Linked DNA regions of Homo sapiens: region 2 is linked to region 1. Evidence: fine-mapped expression QTL. Tissue or cell type: atrial appendage. Region 1 holds a variant in brackets; the other region holds the start of a gene. All regions are shown on one strand. Distances are between the middles of the regions.

The links. PIP is the estimated chance that this variant, and not a neighbour inherited with it, causes the effect.
Region 2: it holds the start of DNAH11, and the variant in region 1 is fine-mapped to the expression of DNAH11 in atrial appendage (GTEx, PIP 0.91).

The regions. Positions count from the first base shown.
Region 1 is chr7:21,576,097-21,578,596 of GRCh38, forward strand. All of the region lies in intron 8 of DNAH11 (dynein axonemal heavy chain 11), which reads left to right. LOC105375183 (a long non-coding RNA gene) reads right to left here and starts at 46. Exons shown (of 4, transcript XR_007060247.1): 1 at 1-46. The variant G/T (reference allele first, on the strand shown) is at 1,375.
Region 2 is chr7:21,541,327-21,544,304 of GRCh38, forward strand. DNAH11 (dynein axonemal heavy chain 11) reads left to right here and starts at 1,713. Exons shown (of 82, transcript NM_001277115.2): 1 at 1,713-2,270. The coding sequence starts at 1,920. RefSeq lists an enhancer at 1,035-1,536 and a silencer at 1,585-1,634.

The sequences.
Region 1 (2,500 bases):
CTCTAGATCTTGTTGCTGCTGAGTATCCTACCTGCCAGCGATGGAGATTGACTCTGAGGCTCCACCATGGTATTATCCCTTGAGGAGACCAAACAGCTGCTTGGCAGGAAGTTAATTACCCAAGAAGGACAGCGATTCATCTTGTACAGGATTGATACATATTCCAAGGTTGTGTCTTCCTTGCCTGCCTGAAAGGCCTCAGCAAGCACGGCGGCCACAAACAACCCTTGAAAATGTCTATTGCAGGAAGCCCAGAAAGGAAGCACCAAGTTGGTTTAAGGGACTGTTCTTGGGGTTGTAGGGGAGAGGAGATAAAAGGAAGCCAAGATCTGAGATCCCAGAAGATCTTAATACTGACTCAAGACTCTCTTGAAAGATGTAAACTCTGATAGAGGGTATGGATAATATGTTTGATCCTTTCTAGGGCTTAAGCCAAGACCCTATCAAGCAAGTAAGTGGGAGATTGTGCTTATAAACAGCTCTTTTGAAGTAAGACAGATGTTCTCCTTGCTTCTCAGAATATTTTAGGCCAAAGCATTTTGTGGGCATAAATTAGCCTAATATCAGTGTCAATGCTGTATTTCAGCTTACTCGTGAAGACCTGGTCTTTGTGCTGTAAGCAATTAAGAAAGACAGAATTCTTAAGTGTATTTCAAGGAAATGTAAAAACAAAGTGTTCAATGCACACTTATGTATATATATTATGATGTTTATAACAAAAGTGTGAAAACACACATGGGAAAGATTGAAACTTACTTTGGGGTAGTGGTTTTCTGGGCAGGCAGAAAGAGAAATGTGTCTATGTGTGTTACTACTTATTTCTGAAATAAAATAACAGTATCTGAGAAAAACAAAACAAAAAAAACACTGGCCATTATATATAAAACAGACCTAAGAAGACTCTGAAAGGTGAAAAGAAAAAGGCAGAGTGGCTAAGGATATTGGGACTCAAGAAACAACAACGTGATGATGAGTTCCCTGGATTTTCCTGTTGCCTGAAGTAATCCAGACTTGGAGCTGAAAACACTGGCAACCAGGAAATGCCAGTGGGCACAGACCAGAAAGAAGCCCAGTAAAAGCCTGATCTCTCCCTAGCCAAAGGCTCAAGAAGGAGAGAGCTTAACACAAAAGAAGATTTGTAAGCCATCAACTGTCCACTCTAGCCAAACACCATGGAAGAAACTGTGTCCCACCCCTCCCCTTGCCAGGAAGAGCTGAGTGGGGAGCCTAGACTTACACCCTTTCTGTCTGAAAATGCTCCAACTCCCACCCTTGCTGGGGTGATGTCAGAGATGACCACATAGGGAGCCATGATTTTCATCCCTGCTGGCCAGGAATGAACTTCATTCTCTGTGGTGTCCGGAGACCATGTGG[G/T]AATCCTGGATTTCCTTCTTCACCCAGCCTGATGTTGGAGCAAACCTGATGGAGAGTCCAGACTATCACCCTGAGGCCAAGTGGTAACAAGGCCACCTGCACTTGTGGCAGCAGTAGAGACCACATGGGGAACTGGAAGTCCCAACCCAGCGGTAACAAGGAGCCCCGCCCACCCTTGGTGGATGAGTAAATGCCGAGTGGAGAACCTGGACTTCTGTCTCTATTGTAATGAGGCTGGAGCAGCATCAGAGAAAGTCAGCAAAAACAAAAGGTTTAAATAAGAGTCAGAGTCTTATAACAATATGAAATTTCAGTAGAATATCAGTTAGTATACCAAGAACCAGGAAGATCTCAACTGAGTGAAAAAAAGACAATCAGTAGATGCCAATACCAAGATAATAGAGATTTTGGAATTACTTGAAAAAGATTTTAAAGTAGTGTATTAGTCCATTTTCACATTGCTACAAAGAACTACCTGAGACTGGATAATTTATGAAGAAAAGAGGTTTAATTGACTCACAGTTCCACAGACTTAACAGAAAGCATAACTGGGAGGCCTCAGGAAACTTACAATCATGATGGAAGATGAAGGGGAAGCAAGGACCTTCTTCACATAGTGTTCAGAGAGAGAGCAAAGGGAGAAGTGCCACATACTTTTAAACCATCAGATCTCATGAAAACTCACTGTCATGAGAACAACAAAGAGTAAATTCACCCTCCATGATCCCCTGTAAAATCAAAAACAAGTTAGTTATCCAAGATACAATGAAGGTACACGTATTGGGTAAATATTCCCCTTCCAAATGGGAGAAATTGGCCAAAACAAAGGGGCTACAGGCCCTGTGCAAGTGTGAAACCCACCAAGGCAGTCATTACATCTTAAAGCTCCAAAATAATCTCCTTTGACTCTATGTCTCACATCTAGGACACGCTGATATAAGAGGTGGGCTTCCAAGGCCTTAGGCAGCTCCACCCCTGTGGCTCTGCAGGGTACAGCCCCCACAACTGCTTTCACTGGCTGATGTTGAGTGCCTGCAGCTTTTCCAGGTGTATGGATCTACCAGCTGTCAGTGGATCTCCCATTCTGGGGTCTGGAGGACAGTGACCCTCTTCTCACAGCTCCACT
Region 2 (2,978 bases), 35 kb before region 1:
CTGTCACATTGAAACACTGCTTCACCGGCCAATGAAAGGATTATTAATTATTTAGGGAAAAGTATCTTTTTTGGACTCATTAACTACTACTGATCGAAGTCTCAAACTCTGAAGTTACGTTTTTATTTACAGATTTTTGTTCAATACAGATGTAATTTATTTTGGAAAAACAAATTATTTTTTAAAAAACAAAGGATTATTTTGCCCTGTATGACATTAGTGAGTGTTGTTTTGAACCTAGCAAGCTGACTCATCCTGTCTTCCTCCAATGCTGCTAAATTTCTTTCTCGAACTGTCCTTGGAACTTACATCATTTTGTTGCTTTCCTCATTTATGAGTTAAATCAATCTTTGACATATCTTCATCTTATATTTCGAGTTACATAGTTAACTTTTTGGAAATTGCACTTTAAAGTTAGCATCATTTAAAAAATTTTCCTGCTAGATTTGAAAGTGGTTATTCACTTTCAATTTAATTCAACTATTATTTACAGAATTCCCGGTTTTCTAGGTTACAGGGATGTGAAGCTGGAATATAAGAGGGGAGAGAAGGAACTGGTGATTGCCAGCCTTGTATACCAGCAACTGGGAGCCCCAAAGATTATTATGGACAATATAAAGCAGCCTTGACAGGTTAGAAGTCATTATCAAAGTTTTCCAAGGCCCTGTGTTATTTCAAGATTCTGATCACATAACTGGAAACTTGTCGATGGTTTTCAGGGGCAGTTAATATCCTGCAAAGAAAAAAATTGTTGAAGCCTCATCTTCTGGAAATGTCTGTCAACATTCAGGTATTAAATGGATTATTGTGGGCAACAGTCCTTCAGTAGCCCCCATGGAAGGGGTGGGGATTGAAGACTTTAGTTTGAAATAAACAATTAACAAAGGAGACTTAAAAGTTTAGTTGAGGACTCCTCCTCAAAATTCTGGTTGCTTTAATAATTAGAATTTCCATAAGAGTCTCAACGAAAGCCACTAATGGACCGCAGTGAAATCCTATTTCAGTATCATGAAACTGTTTTTAATCTGAAGCTTTTTCTCTTTGACCTTTTTACTCTTGAATTAAATGATAAATCTATAGATTTTCGGAACATTTTGGAGATCACGAAAGGGCACTGTGCGTTCTCTTACTGGGTGTACTGAAGTTCCAGTAAGTTTCAGGTTGAGGATGGCAATCAGGAGGACTTCGAATACTTAGATCTTGGATTCCCACAACTAGGAAAGTTGAATTGCAGGACTGGCTCTCTTCTGGTAATATTTGGACACCTTGGGAAAGGTGAATAACAGCCTTCAACTTGGGCCCCGAAACTTCTCTGTTACTTATTTTTGTAACTTAGTTCCTTGCCCATAAAACAAAGACTGACCAGTCAGAGACTTGGCTTTCTACGGATTATGTCAACTAGTCAAGGTAAGAGATTAGCACGGACCTTGGCACAAGAGAGCATTGCTTCATCCAGAGCACTTAACCAATGCTGGGATCTCCACCAAGTGTCCAGTAGGCGAAGGAGCCGGAGGGCAGTGGAGCGAGCGCACTGGGGGCTCAGACCCACCCCGGACACGCGGCTTCTCGGCCGTGTTCGGGACCTAGAGCCCGAGGGCCTCTCCCCTCGGCCTTGGCCTTGGCGTATACTGGGCGGTGGCGCGGTGCGCTCACTCCGCCCCCAGCGGGCTGGGGCGGGGACACCGTCCCCCGGGAAACGGGACGCGCTGCTTGTCCCAGGCCTTCGCTTCGGCCTGCGAGGCTACAGCTGTGCGCAGTGGCGCGGCTGCTAAGTAGCAGCAGGTGGGAGACTAGGGTCTGCGCTCGCGGCGACCGCGGAGGAGGGTGGGCGCCTGCGGAGGTGTCCTCGCTCACTTCGGGGGGCCCAGAGTCTCGGGTGAGGAGCCAGCCGGCCTCGCGTTCCCTCGGACGGTTGCCCAATGGCAGCCCAGGTGGCAGCCCGGGAGGCGCGAGACTTCAGAGAAGCCCCGACCCTTCGCCTAACCTCGGGGGCCGGCCTGGAGGCAGTGGGCGCTGTGGAGCTCGAGGAGGAGGAGGAGAACGAGGAGGAGGCGGCGGCCAGGAGAGCGCGGAGTTTCGCCCAAGACGCGCGGGTGCGCTTCCTCGGCGGCCGCCTGGCGATGATGCTGGGGTTCACGGAGGAGAAATGGAGCCAGTATTTGGAAAGCGAGGACAACCGGCAGGTTCTTGGGGAGTTTCTGGAAAGCACCAGCCCGGCTTGCCTTGTGTTTAGCTTCGCCGCCTCGGGGCGCCTTGCGGCTTCCCAGGAGGTAAGAGGCGACGGGCAAGGGGACCTGCCCATCCAACAAAACTACCCAGGGGAGACAGCCCAGTCGCTCCCCTTTGGATTCCCGCGGGGCGCTCACTCGGGCACTTTAACAAACTTGGCTTGAAGTCCCCATCCTGAGGCCCGCAGGACTCCTCCCCACGTGCACCCACTCTGCAGTTCAGCAGCTGCAGGTTAGTTTCCTAAGTCAGCAGTTTGTATCTGACCGAGAATCCCGCGTTGAGCCTGTTCGACCAGGATAACCCAAGAACACCAGCGCTTTCTTTAGCTGCTTGGGTGTTAGGCGCCAGGTGGGCTTTCTGTGCCAAAAAACTTGCGTTTCAGTTGCTCTTGGGTCACTCTGGAGTCACATCCTTTAAAAAATGGGGTGTTTGGCAGAGCGCATGTAACTCGTCACGTATTTTGATTACGTGCCAACAACACTTCACCCCAGGCAAAAACATTAAGTCCTTAAAAAGGAAGGCCCCTGCAATCTCCGCACACATGGGTGTTTACTGAACATTTAGAGGGAACAGTTCCCTCCTTTCTTCTTTTTCTTCCTTTTCTTTTTGAATTTCGATGATTTGTCCACTAAAAGGTTAACGTATCACCTAACGTACAGCACTTGTATTTAGTATTTTTCAAGTATGATGAGTTTGGAGCAAGATTCACAATTTTTAAGTAGCGCAATGCTCAGTTTAACATGTTATGT